2 separate regions of the Homo sapiens genome follow, and region 2 is linked to region 1. Evidence: fine-mapped expression QTL. A gene starts in region 1. The other region holds a variant in brackets. All regions are shown on one strand. Distances are between the middles of the regions. Region 1 holds the start of STRN3 (striatin 3). Region 2 overlaps STRN3 (striatin 3).

The links. PIP is the estimated chance that this variant, and not a neighbour inherited with it, causes the effect. A credible set is the group of variants that fine-mapping cannot tell apart.
Region 2: its variant is the best candidate, but not a certain one, in a credible set for the expression of STRN3 in lung (TOPMed, PIP 0.85).

What each region holds. Positions count from the first base shown.
Region 1 is chr14:31,023,231-31,031,565 of GRCh38, reverse strand. STRN3 (striatin 3) reads left to right here and starts at 5,187. Exons shown (of 18, transcript NM_001083893.2): 1 at 5,187-5,662. The coding sequence starts at 5,381. AP4S1 (adaptor related protein complex 4 subunit sigma 1) reads right to left here and starts at 5,917. Exons shown (of 6, transcript NM_001128126.3): 1 at 5,779-5,917. RefSeq lists enhancers at 4,689-4,848, 5,959-6,068, 6,139-6,238 and silencers at 4,979-5,298, 5,389-5,648, 5,788-5,969.
Region 2 is chr14:30,893,226-30,901,560 of GRCh38, reverse strand. It overlaps STRN3 (striatin 3), which reads left to right. Exons shown (of 18, transcript NM_001083893.2): 17 at 5,813-5,899; 18 at 5,981-7,757. The coding sequence ends at 6,150. It also overlaps a transcript of COCH not described here. Among named protein-coding and RNA genes, the nearest start is that of COCH-AS1, 7.6 kb to the right of the region's middle. The variant A/G (reference allele first, on the strand shown) is at 4,883.

The sequences.
Region 1 (8,335 bases):
TACTTTCAAAACTCAGGGCAGTTCTGGTTATTGAACTTTAAGAGACAACTGGTATAATGACAGTAACAACTAACAAAAATGATTGACGTGACGAAAAAATATTCATATTAGTCTAGTCTAAATTTGAGTTATTCATCAAACATTTGAAGATCCACCCTTTCCCAGACTCTTGGGGTACAGTTTTGAACAAGAGGGGTAGAGGTCCTTCCCTTCTACAAGGCTGCAATCCTTCAGATAAATGACTTTATGGTCTAAGAAGGATGAAGTCAAAGACTGCTGTATTAGTCCGTTTTCATACTGCTACAAAGAACTTTCCTGAGACTGGGTAATTTATAAAGGAAAGAGGTTTAATGGACTCACAGTTCTGCATGGCTGGGGAGGCCTCAGGAAAATTACAATCATGGCAGAAGGGGAAGCAAGTACATCTTACATGAAGGGCAGGAGAGACAGGAGAAATTGAAGGGAGAAGAGCCCTTTATAAAACCATCAGATCTCCTGAGAACTCACTATCACGAGAACAGCATGGGGGAAACCGTCCCCATGATCCAATAACCTCCCTCCCTTGACACGTGGGGATTACAATTGGAGATGAGATTTGGGTCGGAACACAGAGCCAAACCATATCAATTGCATTACTGATATTTATAAAACCATGATTAAAATGAACGTAGTCACATTCCGTTGGAATTCTTTAAATAGGCAGCACACTTGAAGTTTCAAGAAAGGTAGTTTCAAGACGGATCAGGACAAAATATTGAGGAAGCCAGAGTGGTTGGTGCTAAGTATTTGCCTAAAATTAGACTAGAAACTCTGTGAAGGCAGAGATTACGTGTCTGGGTCACAGTGGATCAGCAGGGAGCAGTAGAGCACCTGAAAAATCGTAGCCAATCAGTACTTCTTAAAAAATAAAAAAAACGGGCTGGGCTCAGTGGCTTATGCCTGTAATCTTACCACTTTGGGACGCCAAGGAAGGAGGACTGCTTGAGGCCAGGAGTTAGAGATCAACCCTGGCAATACAGTGAGACTCCCATCTCTACAAAAAATTAAAAACAAAAAATAGCCTGGAGTGATGTTGTGTACAGGTAGTCTTAGCTACTCAGGAGGTTGAGCTGGGAGGATAGATTGAGCCCAGGAGTTTAAGATCAGCCTGGGCAACATAGTGAGATTCCCTCTGTACAAAAAATAGAAAGGAATAAAGCAAAAATTGAGTACTCACTATGTGTAAGTATTGCTTTTGGAGTGTTTAGTATCAGTGTTACTGATCAGTACACAGATGGTGTAAATATAGTGTAAAAACTATTAGATAAGGCCCTGTGCAGTGGCTCACACCTGTAACCCCAGCACTTTGCTAGGAGTTCAAGACCAGCCTGTGCAACATGGCGAAAACCCATCTCTACAAAAAATACAAAAATATTTGCTGGGCATGGTGGCACATGCCTGTGGTCCCATCCCAGCTACTTAGGAGGCTGAGGTGGGAGGATCGCTTGAGCTGGGGAGGCTGAAGCTGGAGTGAGCCAAGATTGTGCCACTGCACTCCAGCCTGGGTGACAGAGTGAGATCCAGTCTCAAAAAAGAAAAAAAAAAAGATTAAAGAAAAAAAGAGATAAGCATGGGAGGGAGGCTACTACAATAGAATAGTGAGTCAAAAGAATTCAGGGATATGGAGGCTTCTTGGACAAAATAATGCTTGAGCTGAGTATTTTCTTTTTTTTTTTTGTGGGGGAAGGGTTTTGTTTGTCTTAAGACAGGGTTTTGCTCTGTTGCCCAGACTGGAGTGCAGTGGCATAATGATGCAATTATGGCTCACTGCAGCCTGGACCTCCTGGGCTCAGGTGATCCTCCCATCTCAGCCTCCAGAGTAGCTGGGACTACAGACTCACGTGGCCACTCTGGCTAATTTTTGTATTTTTGGTAGGGACAGGGTTTTGCCATGTTGCCCAGGTTGGTCTCGAATTCCTAGGCTTAAGCCATCCTCTCACCTCTGTCTCCGAAAGTGTTGGGATTACAGGCATGAGCCACTGTGCCTGATCTGAGCTGAGTTTTGAAGATAGGCAATGGGGCACAGCATGTGTTAAATTACTGTGGAATGAAATAGCATTATACATTTGAGGAACCAAAAACAGTGGCAGTTTGGCTGAAGAGAAGAATGAGGTGGCATGATAGTGTTATGGTAGATTAGACTGTAGGATGGATCTAGATCAATTTATATGCTTATGTTAAAATTTGGGCTTTATACTAAATTTAGAAATCACTAAACTATGTTAAACAGAGGAATGACAGAATCATACCTTTGTTTTAGGAAGATCAATCAGGCAGCAGTGATAGTGCAAAGTGGGGGTAGAATGGAGGTGGGAAGGTTTAAACTAAAGTATAAAGAGAGACAATAGAATCCACAGGAAAGATATTACTGAGAATGAAATTGGTTTGTGGGGGCTGACTGAAAGGTAGTAGAATGACTGCTAGGCTTCAAGTTTGGATGTAGTGTCACTTAATAAGGTAGATAATAGAAGTAGAGATTTTGTTTTTGTTTTGAGGGTAGGTGAGGAGACAAAAAGGATAAGAAATCCAGTCTTTCCTTAAGCTCAAGTTACCAGTTATAAGTGTGCATGTTAGTCTTCTTTTGATGCTATCATCAGGTCAACCATTCTCACAAATGGTTTTTGTTGTTGTTGTTGTTTTTGGGATGGAATCTCACTCTCTCTTTCACCCAGGCTACAGTGTAGTGGCATGATGTCGGCTCACTGCCCCCTCTGCCTCCAGAGAAGCTGGGATTACAGGCAAGCGCCACCACGCCCAGCTAATTTTTGTACTTTTTGGTAGAGACGGGGTTTTGCCATGTTGGCCAGGCTGGTCTCCAACTCCTGAGCTCAAGTGATCTGCCCGCTTCGGCCTCCCAAAGTGCTGGGATTATAGGTGTGAGCCACCGCACCTGGCCACAAATGTCTCTGTGTGTGTGTGTGTGTGTGTGTATGTGTGTGTATGTCTTTGAGGCAGCATAATTTTTCTGAGCTTTTTATGTGCTATGACGCCCCCTAAAAAGGAATTGGATGAATAAACAGGTTGTATGTTGGTAACTCTAAGATAAATAGTACTTTAATAATTTGAAGAAATATGTAATCTTAACACTTTGTGAAGCCAAGGTGGGTGGACCACTTGAGCCAGGAGTTGGAGACTAGCCTGGGCATCATGACAAAACCCCGTCTCTACAAAAAATACAAAAATTAGCTGGGCTTGGTGGATGCACACCTGGAGTCCCAGCTATCAGGAGGCTAAAGTGGGAGGACCACCTCAGCCAGGGAGCTCCAGGTTGCAACAAGCAGAGCTCACACCACTGCATTCCAGCCCAGGCAACAGAGTGAGACCCTGTCTCAAAAAAAAAAAATAAATAAAATAATAATTTGAAGAAATGGTCCTTAACATTATAGTACTGCAATCTAAGATCTCATTTCATATAGAAATAAAACATGGCAGCATGAGTAACAGGTCCAATCTGCTTTCCATTAAACTGTAATAACAGTAAAGCAGATGTGATAAAATAAGATGCATTACTTAATCTCTTTTGAAATTACTTCCTGATTGGTTGGTAGTGCATACTCCATAGTACAAGTTTTATTGGCTTTTGCAGTAAAGAAAAAAAATTTTAAAAAGTAACAAATTTTCAATGCAATTTTCCTGCATCGCTATTAATATAATTACTGAACCTAATTTCCTTATGTTGTTAATTATTTTTGTCTTATTTTTCAAACAAATGCTTCTTAGCTATATTAATTTTTAGAAACACACTAGTGCATTAGGATATTTTCTAGGAAACTAAGCACATAAAAGTACCCACTATTGTACTTAAAATATTAGCCTTGTCTCTTATGTATATGTTACATTCCTCAAACTTTTTAAATTTTTTGCCGACACGGAGTCTCGCTTTGTCGCCCAGGCTGGAGTGCAGTGGTGCGATCTCGGCTCTCTGCAACCTCAGCCTCCTGGGCTCAAGCAATTCTCGTGCCTCAGCCTCCCCAGGAGCTGGGACTACAGGTGTGCGCCACCATGCCCGGCTAATTTTTGTATTTTTAGTAGAAATGGGGTTTCACAATGTTGGCCAAGCTGGTCTCGAACTCCTGGCCTCAAGTGATCGCCCACCTCGGCTTCCCAAAGTGCTGGGATTACAGGCTTGAGCAGCCGCGCCCGGCCATATTCACTTAAACATTTAATGACCCAGGAGAACATTCATCTAGGATTTTAAGTTGTACTCACAGTGCTTTTATTTTCTGTTTCGATCAAAATAGTCTATTGATGACAATATTTGTGAGCCCATTCATTTCTACCGTATCAAATTGTTAGTCTAGCCAGTCTCCTTCAAACTTCTCTCCCTCTACCCATCATCGTCAAGATCTAAAGGAATTCACTACCTCTTCTTCTCCCAAGAAAAAAAAAATCGCTCCTCCCCCTCTCCCAACCCCCCCACAACCCATTCCAGAAAAGGAAAGAAGAGGGGACGCAAAGTGGAATAAGTTACGACGGGCGACCGAGCGCATAGAAATGGGACCAAAGCCCAGGCTCAAGACAGAGACGAGGAATCAGTAACCACAGCCGGAGGATCTTGGCTATTTGCCAGCAGAGAACTGACTGGTTCTAAGAAACCAGAGGCAGAGCGAGTGACAGGAAGGGAAAGAGGGCCCACCCTTGGGACTGCCTGAAACACTCAAAGAATGAAAAAGAAACGTCAGGAATCCGAGACGGGATGCGGTCGGCCAGAGCGACCAGCCAGGTTAACAACCAGCTCAGAAAGCCGGGACACGGGTGAGAGACCCCTGGGAAGGAAACAGCGCCCGGGGACGGCCTGCTAAAAGGAAACTGATAACCAGGAAGCCTAAGGCCGCCTCGCTTCCAAAAGTCAGAGTCGGAGCCCAGGTGTCCGGTAGCTGCGGCCAGACACCGGATCGGGTCTGAGGGCGGGCCTAGGGGCGGAGCCCGAGCTCTTTCCCCGCCCTCTAACGGCGACCCGGGCTGCGTTCTCAGTGCGCCGGCGTAGGGTGAGGCCGGACTCTATTTGGCGATTAAGCGTGAGGCTGCGTTCGCTACCCAGCATGCTGTGCGCTAGTGACGGCCCTCCGCCTATCCCCTTCCCAACTCTCCCCCCACCCCTCCCGCCGAGGCCCCCCCTTCCCCTAAAGTGAGTGAGTGAGACGGGCAGATGGAGGAGGGATTGTAATGGCGGCAGCCGGCAGCTCCCTGCTCTGACCCACGGCAGGCACACAGCAACGACCCCTTCCCCGCCCCTCTCCCGGCCGGCCTCCGCCCCGCAGCCAGCGCGGGGCCACCCTCTCCGGCCCTTCCCCCAGCTGTCGGCGTCTCGCCCTGCGCCCCGGCCGGGGCCCCACACACAATGGACGAGCTTGCCGGAGGCGGTGGTGGCGGCCCGGGGATGGCGGCCCCTCCCCGGCAGCAGCAGGGACCTGGGGGGAACCTGGGCCTTTCGCCCGGGGGGAACGGAGCGGCGGGCGGCGGGGGTCCTCCGGCCTCCGAGGGAGCGGGTCCCGCGGCAGGCCCCGAGCTGTCCCGGCCGCAGCAGTACACTATCCCGGGGATACTGCACTACATCCAGCACGAGTGGGCTCGGTTCGAGATGGAGCGGGCGCACTGGGAGGTGGAACGGGCCGAACTGCAGGTACCTCGTTGGGGTCGGTGTGCGGGAGCTGCGGCGGCTGGGTTCCCGGCCGGGGGGTGGGGCTGGGGACTCCACTCAGCCGGAGCCGGCGCCTTGGGAGGCCGAGCGGAACCTACCTGTGCTGCTCAGGTTGTGATGGTCCTCTCAACGGCTTTTCCTGGAGTCCCCCTCCCTCTTTCCCGCATAAGCTTGCTCCCCAACCTTCACTGGCTACGCGGTGCGGGCCTCCTCGGGGCAGCCATTTTGGCTTTTAGTATGGCGTCTGCGGGGGCTCCTCCGGAGGCGGCCTTCCCGGGCCTCCGGGGCTTGGGACCGAGCACCTCTCTGTGGGAGAGTCCGGTTTGGGGCCTCTCAACACTGAGTTTGCTCTTGTTTGTTCCTCTTGAGATGAAGAGCCCGAAGAGAGGGACTAGGATAGGCATCTTACCCCCCTTTTCCGGACCACCCCCCTTTCCGATTTGGCGTATCTGGCCCCCTCCCTCAGACTTGGTACGCGCTTGCCCCTTGACAGCCACGCTTCTTTCCTGGGCTGCTAGGGTGCACAGTGACTTGGGACTGACCTGTGAAGTTTTATTTCCCATCGTCAACTTTAAGTACTTTCTCACCTGAGATGCTGCCTTACTCACTTGGATTCTCTGTAGTTATTCCTTACTTAGTGACTCATCAACGCTTTCAGCACTGAATTTTTCTTTTTACAGTACTCTCCACTAGATCTCCTTTCCCCCATCCGTTTCTTTATCTATAAAAAAACCAAACCAGACGATCGATGCTGTATTTATGAAACGACTGAAGAGATTTAATATTCCCTTGAAGTGAAACGTAGTTATATCATGTTACTTACTCTTGCAGGAGAAGCAAAGTGAGATGTTCTCGGAACCCTTCATAGTTGAGCTTGACTCGATCCTCATAATGTGAACCTTTGATAGGCTGCACATTTGGAAGCTGTTGGTAGTTAACAGCTCATGTCCTGGATCTCAAAATTGCTGCATCTTTTTGAAAGGGTTATTTAACTTTCTTGGGTATTTGTGTTTATTTTTAAATACCTTTCCAGGGCAAATTTAGGCTTAGAAGGAAAAAGCGTGTGTCTAAATAGTATTGCACCTGTTCTTCAGACTGTTGTGTATTTAGGGGGTAAGCAGTATTTGCTGTCATATATGTCATATGCCTATGGTGAATCGTTAGGCAAATGTAGTGCTGAAAGGAGGAGGATTGGATTAACTAGAAAGGGTGTCCTCAAATATGCATCTCTTTAGTTTGGTTCTGAACTAGTAAACTTTTATATGACTCCACAAAGTGGGTGAAGTTAAACTTTTCAAAAGTAAAAAATACTTGGGTATTTTGACACTGTATGAAGTCTTAAAAAAAAGTAACACTTGTTAGTCATTTCAGTGCTTTACAATTGTGTTTTGATATAATATTGGGCTTTAAAATTACATAACTTTAAAAAAGCTGAAGTCAAAACTGGTTTAAGTTGTGTACAGTCTGCTTTAACATACTTAAAATTTATAGAATTCTGTTGGTATACAGCTTTCTACTACATACTGCAAACTTAATTTTCTGTGTGAGTAAAGTAAGTAAGGCATTTGTTTTTAAAATTTGGATTGACAAATGCAGTAAGGCCTAAGCTCACTAAATAATACTTCACCAGTCCCTGCTATGGTTTCTTAGACCTTTGTACTGTTGTATGCAAGTTTGGATTTCAACACTCTTCAAGTTAGCAATTGCATTTTTCACCCATAAACTTCACTAATGTAAGCAGCTGAGAAGAAAGATATCTTGTGCCCAAATTAGTAAAACCTATACTATATATTAAAGAAGCCTTTATTGCCTGCTCTAGCATTTGCTTTCCCTTCTAGGTCTCCTTAACAGCAGCAGCAGTGTTTTAAGGTAGATTCCTTTTGCTTGCTTGCTTGCTTTCAATTCTATTGGTACAGTACTGTTATTAGCCATCCTAAGTTTTTGTTTGTTTCCTTGTTTTGAAGAAGTCCTACAGTGTTTCTAGACTCTTTTTTATTTCATACTGATTCTTTTGGAATAAAATGTTCATGATGGCGTTGGTTTTTTTTTTTTTGAGTTATATATTTAAAATGTTTTATTGGGTTAACTTAATAAGGTTTCTAGTTTGCTTTAGGTGCCTTCAGTCTACTGAGATTGCTTGTGAGATGCGTATTTTAAAATGTATGTGTTGAATACATATTTGTGGGAGGGTGTAGTGAAGCATCAGTGGATTTTTACTGTAAACTTAAACCTATTTTTAAGAAAGACAATCTAGAAATAAGACAACTTACATATTATTATGTACAGTCTCCAGTGCACTGTCATGTACACAGATTTTTAAAGTGTTAATTATTGAATAGTTTCAATAGAGAACGTGAAGAGCTTAAGGAATACCCCATATTGATGTAAAATTTTAATGGGGAATAATATTTTCCCTGGCTTTGGGAAAGATATTAAAAGGAACTTTACAGTATGATTCTGTTCTCTGTAAAAAGAATTTAGAGTAAAGGTCTGTCTTAGAAACTTGGAACCAAACTAAAGGATCACATCTTAAAGCTCTTCTGTCTCTGATTCTTCCTTACCTTAGACTCAGGTAAAGCATTGTTAGTAAGGTCATAGGACAGTGGTTTCTTAACTTTTATATAACATGAATTACCAAAATTCCACAGACAGTCC
Region 2 (8,335 bases), 130 kb after region 1:
TGTAAATGTTAATTGCAACATTGTTACAGGGTAACAAATTATCAAGTAAGACAGTGACCCAGAATTATAGGTTTCTCTTTGAAGATTATATAGAAAATGGCAATATGTTTTAGTCTGTAGTCTTAACAATGAGACCCTTTTGTTCAAACATTACTTTCATGGACAGATTCTTTTTAACAAATTGCAGACAAAGTGAATATTTACAGGTCTACATTGTGCACAGGACATAAGATTCAAGTGGATGTTCTTTTTAAAAAAAATATTTAAATTTTTTTTTTTTTTTATAGAGACAGGGTCTCACTGTGTTGCCCAGGCTGGTCTTAAACTCCTGGGCTCAAGTAGTCCTCCCATGTCAGCCTCCCAAAATGCTGGGATTACAGGCATGAGCCACTGCTCCTGGCCAGTGTTCCCAATTTAACACTTCATCAAATCAATCCTTTGAACTATTTTTATGAAACCGATAATGTTTTTCTCTGCTGCAAGAGCAAAGAGGTTAATTTCCTTTGTGTTTCTAAAAAGATTCCTGTTTATTAATTATTGAAGATTTACAGTTATATGGGAAAGTTCAGGAATTTTAGTAGTTATATTAAAAGCAAAAGGTGAGCATCTGAAAAGCTATTTTATTAGCAGAAATCAAGAAAGTGGTCAGTAAAAGCTTACTCAATATCAAATAAGCAGCATATAGTCTTTCAAATTGTTTCCAAATTTCACCTATTTATTATTTCTGTTAACTAGTACCTTACCTGTAGTATGAAGATAATTGAAGCAGTAGGCTCCAAATAATAGAAAAAAAAATCCTTTTTTTTTTTTTTTGAGCCAGTCTTGCTCTGTTGCCCAGAGCTATAGTGCAGTGGCACCATCTCAGCTCACTGTAACCTCCGCCTCTTGGGTTCAATTGATTCTGGTGCCTCAGCCTCCCACATAGCTGGGTGGGACTACAGGGTGGGACTACAGGTGTGTGCCACCATGTCCAGCTAATTTTTGTATTTTCACCAAGTTGGCCAGGCTGGTCTTGAACTCCTGGGCTCAAGTGATCTACCCGCCTCAGTCTCCCAAAGTTCTGGGATTACAGGCGTAAGCCACTGTGCCTGAACACACACACACACCGCCCCCCCCCGCCCCACACCCCCCGTTGAGTTACATGAAACTATGAGTTGTCTTCAGATGTATGTTTTTTTGGTGTGGTTTTTTTTTTTTTTTTGAGATGGAGTTTCATTCTTATTGCCCAGGTTGGAGTGCAGTGGCACGATCACGGCTCACTGCAACCTCTGCCTCCTGGGTTCAAGTGATTCTCCCGGCTCACCCTCCTGAGTAGCTGGGATTATAGGCGTCTGCTACCACGCCTGTCTAATTTTTTATATTTTTAGTAGAGACAGGCTTTCAGCATGTTGGCCAGGCTGGTCTTGAACTCCTGACCTCAGGTGATCCGCCCACCTTGGCCTCCCAAAGTGCTGGGATTATAGGTGTGAGCCACTGCGCCCGGCCTGGATATGGTGTTTTCAGAGAAGTTCTTTAAAAACTCATTTAATTGTGGTAAAATAGATTGTCCCCGTAACTGCTGTTTCCGGTTAGCTAAGTTGTTTTTAATAGAGTATTACTTTATAAAATGAGTATTAAATTTATTGAGCTTTTATATCTGAAACATGATAGAACTTTATGCTATGAATAGGTTCAATAATTATTTAAATGAGTAAACCATTTTAATAAAAATGTATTCAGCATTTTGTACTATACTGCACTGGATACTATCATGTATAAGATATGGTTCCTGATTTCTGTGGGCTTGTTGTCTAGAGGAAATAAGAGGGGGTGGGGGGGGTATGTGCAAGATGAAGCTTTGCCTTAGGAATGGAAAGGTGTTTGGGGTTGGTTGGTTTTTAAGTGAAGGAAGTGGTAGTAGGAAGTTACAGGTATGGGGATATTTTGAGCAGAGGTGCAGTGGTGGAAACTTTCTCAGGAACAGAAGTTTCTTATAGACAAAGCCAAAGACAAAGTTTGGGGAAGGAAAATAGAATCTATTGAGGAGGACTTTTAGAACCAGGTTAAGAATATTGAATTTTTATCTATGCTGTATGTGTAGGAACCACTAAAAATATTTGAACAACAGGGCTTGCAAAATTGGTTTAGAAAAACTAATCAAGTCACATTTTGCACTATATGATAGATTCTTGACTTTAAAGGATTTAAAGTTTTCAATTTCTACTATTTATTTCAGAGAGATCTTCAGGACCCATGGTTTCTAAAATTTTGGTAGAGTTACAAATTTGAGTTTCCTATACTGTGTCTGAAAGACTTAGGTAGTGAGTGATTCTGGAAGAACCTTATAGTATGAATGAGGGATGTGGAGGAGTGGGAGGAAGATCTTGTATCAGCTGTGGACTCATTCATTCAGCAAAATGTCTAGACTATCTGCCATATTCTTGGCACAGTTCTTGAAGCTTGGTGAACAGAATAAAATGTCCTGTCCTCTTGGAGCTACAGACTAGTGGTATATTGTCTATTCTGTGTGAGACATTGTTCTAACTCATTTGCTTTTCTAATAACTCTGTAAGGTAGATATAGTACTATTATTATCCCCATTTTACACATGAGGTTGAAGGGCTTAAAGAAGTTAAGTGACTTGTGCAGTATTTAAACTCACACAGTTTGTTTCCGTAGTTTACATTTGACATCTTTATTTTCTCTCCATTTAATAGAGGCCCACAGTGTTAGCCAGTAAAAGGGCTTAAGGTGCCAGGGAGGGGAGAATGGGCATGTGCAGTGGCATCTGTCCAGCCTTTATTTCCTTAGTCATAAGAGGAAAAAATTAGGATTAGTTTTGGTAGAGTATTAGCAGAAGCACGAGGCCAAAATGAAATTGGTTAGATGTGAGAAGCTGCAGGTATATGTTAGTGAAGGAGAGGTCCTCGTTACTGGAAGGGGTCAGAAGCTTTGTGATTTATGTGGTCACCAGTGAAAGCCCAACATACAACTTGGTCCAGCATTGTGTTCTCTATTCATGGTCCATCTGAAGGGATTACTCACATTTTGAAGTGATTTTTGTGACTCTGTGGAGAAGAAGGGTTAACTCTCAATTGACTTAAGATAATCAGGGTGAGGGTTAGTTTAGTGCACAGGCTGGAGAGCTGGAGTTAAACTTGGAAAATTATAGCATCCTTAAAGAAATGTGTAGCTCTTGTATTGGAAAAAAGTCTTTTGGTTTAGAGATGTTAAACTTAGGAGATAGAGGATCATTCTCAAGAGAGAAGTTTGAACTAGATCTGTGAATTGAAACTTACCATCAAGGCTAGGTGTGATGGGTCATGCCTGTAAACCCAGCACTTTGAGAGACTGAGGCAGGAGAATCGCTTGACACCAGGAGTTTGAGACCAGCCTAGGCAACAATACGGGATTCTGTCTCTACAAAAAATTTAAAAATTAGCCAGGCATGGTGTCGTGTGCCTCTAGTACCAGTTAAGTGAGAGGGTTGCTTGAGCCCAGGAATAAGGTTGCAGTGAGCCATGATGGTGCCACTGTACTCTGGCCTGAGTGACAGAGCAAGGCCCTGTCTCAAAAATACAAATAAAATAAATTTTAAAAATAAAACTTACCATCACAGATTTAACATAAGGAAAGCTAATGATACCTGGTATTTAACCCCTAATATTTTGAAAGTATTGTCATGGAGGCCAACCATTTTATACACTGTGGTCTTTTATAGGAATTTTGAGAGGAGTGGATTCTAGAACTGGAAGATAAATTATGTTGAACTAAACAATTGAAGATAGTTTGTTGAAGACTTTTCTGTTCTTTGGGCTAGCAGAGTAGAATTTCTAAGACTATTTTGTTTATTACTCTTAGTATTAATGAGAGTTGTGGTTTGAAATGAGAGACTTTAATTTTGTCTTAAATTTTTGACTTTAATTTTTTTAAATTTTGTCTTCAACTGATAAGTGTTTAATAGTGCTGGAAAGTGATAGGACTTTTCTTCTTTTTTGAGACGGAGTCTCACTCTGTCACCCAGGCTGAAGTGCAGTGGCACGATCTCAGCTCACTGCAGCCTCCACCTCCCGGGTTCAAGCGATTCTCCTGTCTCAGCCTCCCTAGTAGCTGGGATTACAGGTGCTAACCACCACACCCAGCTAATTTTTGTATTTTTAGTAGAGGCAAGGTTTCCCCATGTTGGCCAGGCTGGTCTTGAACTCCTGCCCTCAGGTGATCTGCCCGCTTCAGCCTCCCAAAGTGCTGGGATTACAGGCATGATCCCCCACAGCTGGCCTACTATATTACTTTTTATAGGTTTTTTGGAGTGTATTTTTACACATTTTATTATGTTGTGGTTTTGTATTCAGGTCAACAGCTATAGCCCCATCACAAATAACAAAACTAGACCTCTTTCATATCCTAGTGTAGAGTATCATCATGGGACCAGAGGCATGGCTAATGATTATAACTAGAATTTTGGAAAAAGCCTCTATCTTTCATTAGGGACATCCCAGGCATTTGAGTAATAAAGACTCATTGCTGAGTGAAAGGAGAGTAACTTATAAAAGTATCAGTATTTATATTTTATTGCCTGCCTAGTGAATCAGTTTATAATGCTTTCTATCCATCCAAAGCATATATTACCATTGCAGGATGCCCTTGCCCCAAAGTATTTGTGCAATACAACTTTGTGTTCACAACTTGTCTTTTAAATTCTACTTGCTGTTGAATTCCATTTGCTTGCCAAATCTTCACTGAAGATACTCATTAAGTCACATTTTCCAGAGCAGTGTTTTTGTTAATATCTGGGGAAATCTAGAGTAATTTGTTTACTCCTTTCTTTTTTAGAGTATGTAAAATGATTATATTTCAAAGGATAAGTGAACTGAACTTGATAATGGAATGTTTAGGTAGAAAC[A/G]TATTTTCTGGTGATTTATTTATTGTTAGCCCAGTATATAAAATAGTCTTAAGGTCTTTCACTGACACTTTTCCTTCCTTCTTCCCTCCCCTCCCCTCCCCTCCCCTTCCCTTTCTTTTCTTTCTTCTCTTTTCTCTTTCCTTCCCATTTTCCTTGCCTTTCCTTTCTTGACAGCATTTCACTATGTTGCCCAGGCTAGCTAGAGTACAGTGGCCACTCACAGGCACAGTCATAGTGCACTGCAGCCTTGAACTCCTGGGTTCAAGTGATTCCACAACCTCAGCCTCCTGAGTAGCTTGGAACTACAGGCACACCTCACCACACTTGGCTTATTTAATTCCAGTTTACACGATCTTGAGCCTTTGATGCAATCCTATTGTCATTGCTTTACAGTGTCTATCAGATATTGTCAGATACATGTTACACAGATGTCTTTTTTAGGAGTAATTATTAGAGAAAGTTATGCATTTGAATTAAAATTCTCTTGAAAACATTACCGTAGTGGTGGATGTACCCTTAAAACATTATATTAAGTGAAAGAAGCCAGACACAAAAAGCCACGTATTGTATGAGTTCACTTATACGAAGTATCCAGAATAGGCCAGTCTATAGAAAGAGTCGATTAGTGGTCAGGGGTTGGAGGGGCAAATAGGAGTGACTGCTTAATTGGGTATGGGGTTTCCTTTTCCAGTGATGAAAATGTTCGGAACTCTAGAGAATGGTGATGGTTGTGTAACATTGTGAATGTTCTAAAAGACACAGGATTGTGTACTCAGATGTTTACAGTGGTAAATTTTATGTTGTGTATATTTTACCACAATAAAAAAGTTGCTATAATGATTGTTTTATGTTGATGCTATATTGTAGTTTCTGTTGTCTCGAGTTAGTATTTGTGAAAACTTAATCAGTTCTCTGTTATGTTTTGTTTAGGTAAAATGATCCATTCTATGGTAGCTCACTTGGATGCTGTTACAAGTCTAGCAGTAGATCCTAATGGAATCTATTTGATGTCTGGAAGTAAGTCTTAAAGTCCTGTACTGCCCACAAACTTTATAAAAGATTGTTACTCAGTAACAAATTTTATTTGTTCTTTTACAGGCCATGACTGTTCCATCAGATTATGGAATTTAGACAGCAAGACATGTGTGCAAGAAATAACAGCTCACAGAAAGAAATTGGATGAATCAATTTATGATGTTGCTTTCCACTCGTCAAAAGCATATATAGCTAGTGCAGGAGCTGATGCTCTTGCCAAAGTATTTGTATGAATCAACAAAAACTTGCATCGTAACAAGATTTGCTTGGACAGAAAGAGGGTCTGCATCACTGCCATCAGAAAGGTTACTGATATGACACTACATGTGATCTGCCTGGTGAAGGCTATCTGGGGCAGGCACAAATTGGTGGAAATCACATCTTAATGTCAAGCTCATTAAGTTAACTGTAATTACTGTATTTTGTGGGACAAAGAAAAAAGGACTCCAGTATTTGTGGCCTGTACTGGATGTGAACTGAGCGTATATCTGTTTTTAGGTGTCTTTAAGCCAATGTGGAGTCTGATCTTTCAAAAAAGTTTTTTTTTTTCTCTTCTTCTTCTTCTTTTTTTTTTTTTTTTTTTTTTTTTTGGACTCTGTGTGCTGCCTTAGGGGTTAGGAATGTGGTGCTCTTGTTGGGGGAAGTGAGCTCCAAGAGTAGCTTTTTTTCATCTCTTAGTGATCTTCTGTTTATCGGTTGAATGCCACAGATTCCCTTTTAAACTTATTTTGCTTTAAAAAAAAAAAAAAAGAAAAAGAAAATTTAACTTAAAATATTTTAGCATTAGTTGCACAAAATGTTTGGATAAAATTCTAGTTTTTATAAGTCTTTTTATATATTTAGCCTGTCACAACAGTGCTCAAGATTGTATTGAAGTTTTTCTGCATTATACAACCCTAAAACACAGAGATCTCACTGACCCGTTGCCCTGTAACCACTTTCTTTCCTTCTTTTGCCTAATACAGCTCAGCTAAGTCCTTCCATAAAGATGCTAAATAACTTTCATCATCACATAAATGTCTTCATAAACCAAGGACTATTAAGTGTATTAAAATGAAACAGTGGGGTTTAGTACTCCAAATGAACTCTTAAAGAAAAAAACTAATCTTGGCATCCTATCACTATGTGATATTTTGTACATCTTACTGTATTTACAAGTTTATTTATCAAGGATTATCCATCTTGCTAATGGCCTATTATTTATTTCACTTTTTGTTGGTCTTTATATCCTTTTATTAATGTGCTAAAGGAACCTGTATATCTATTTTGGAACTCTTTGAATAGTCTAAAATAGACTAAAAATGGAGTATTTTATAGTTTAAATTACAAACCAAGGTGGTTCCCCCTAAGATATATATCTTGGTTTACCATGATTCCAAACAAAACTAACTTGTTTAAAAATATTTGGAGTAAAGTTTTATTTGCATTACAAATAGGATACAAAAATAGTTGAATCAGGATACAGAAATCTGCTGTGTTTTGACTAGTTATCCCTGTTTTATTTTTTTAGATGTGCTTAATTTTATGGTGTAACTAAAGATTTTGTTTGTGTAATGCATGATTAAGACAATAAAGTATTTTTTCTAGTCTTCCGAGAAACTTTTCTGATCAGTTTGCGAGTTTTGATGAGTTTTGTAAGGTTTTTGTTTTACAAACTATGAATCAGCAAATTTTTAAGATTGTACCACATAGCAAACATACAGCTGTTGAAAAATAATGTATATAAAATGCATATAATAAATATTAAATTGTGTACCTGTATGTTACTGTTGGCTACATCATTTTGTGTTGAATAATAAAGTGCAATACTTTATTCTCCATAATTAAACTAGGAAATGGAGATTTCTTAGTGAGTCCTTCATTTTTATGCTGTTCTTTCAAACTTTGTCCTACTTATTGATATTCTAATAAGAGTAGATCACTAACACTATTAATAATGTCTAAGTATTTCACCCCACTTGAAGATTAAGAAAAAGTCTTGCATTAAATTATGCAATTCAAAATAACCCCCAGAAATGCACAGGTGCAGTTTTAAGTAATTTGCTTAGACATCCTGTTACATTATTAAATCTGAATTTCAATTAATGGCAGTGTTGTTCTATTTGCCATACCTGTTCCCACAAAAAAATTCAGCAAGGAATAAACTACATTGAATATTTAGGTTAGTTGGTGCAAAAGTAATTGCGGTTTTTGGCCGGGCGCGGTGGCTCAGGCCTATAATCCCAGCACTTTGGGAGGCCGAGGTGGGTGGATCATGAGGTCAGGAGATCAAGACCATCCTGGCTAACACGATGAAACCCCGTCTCTACTAAAAACACACACACACAAAATTAGCCGGGCGTGGTGGCGGGTGCCTATGGTCCCAGCTACTCGGGAGGCTGAGGCTGAGGTGTGAGTCCGGGAGGCGGAGCTTGCAGT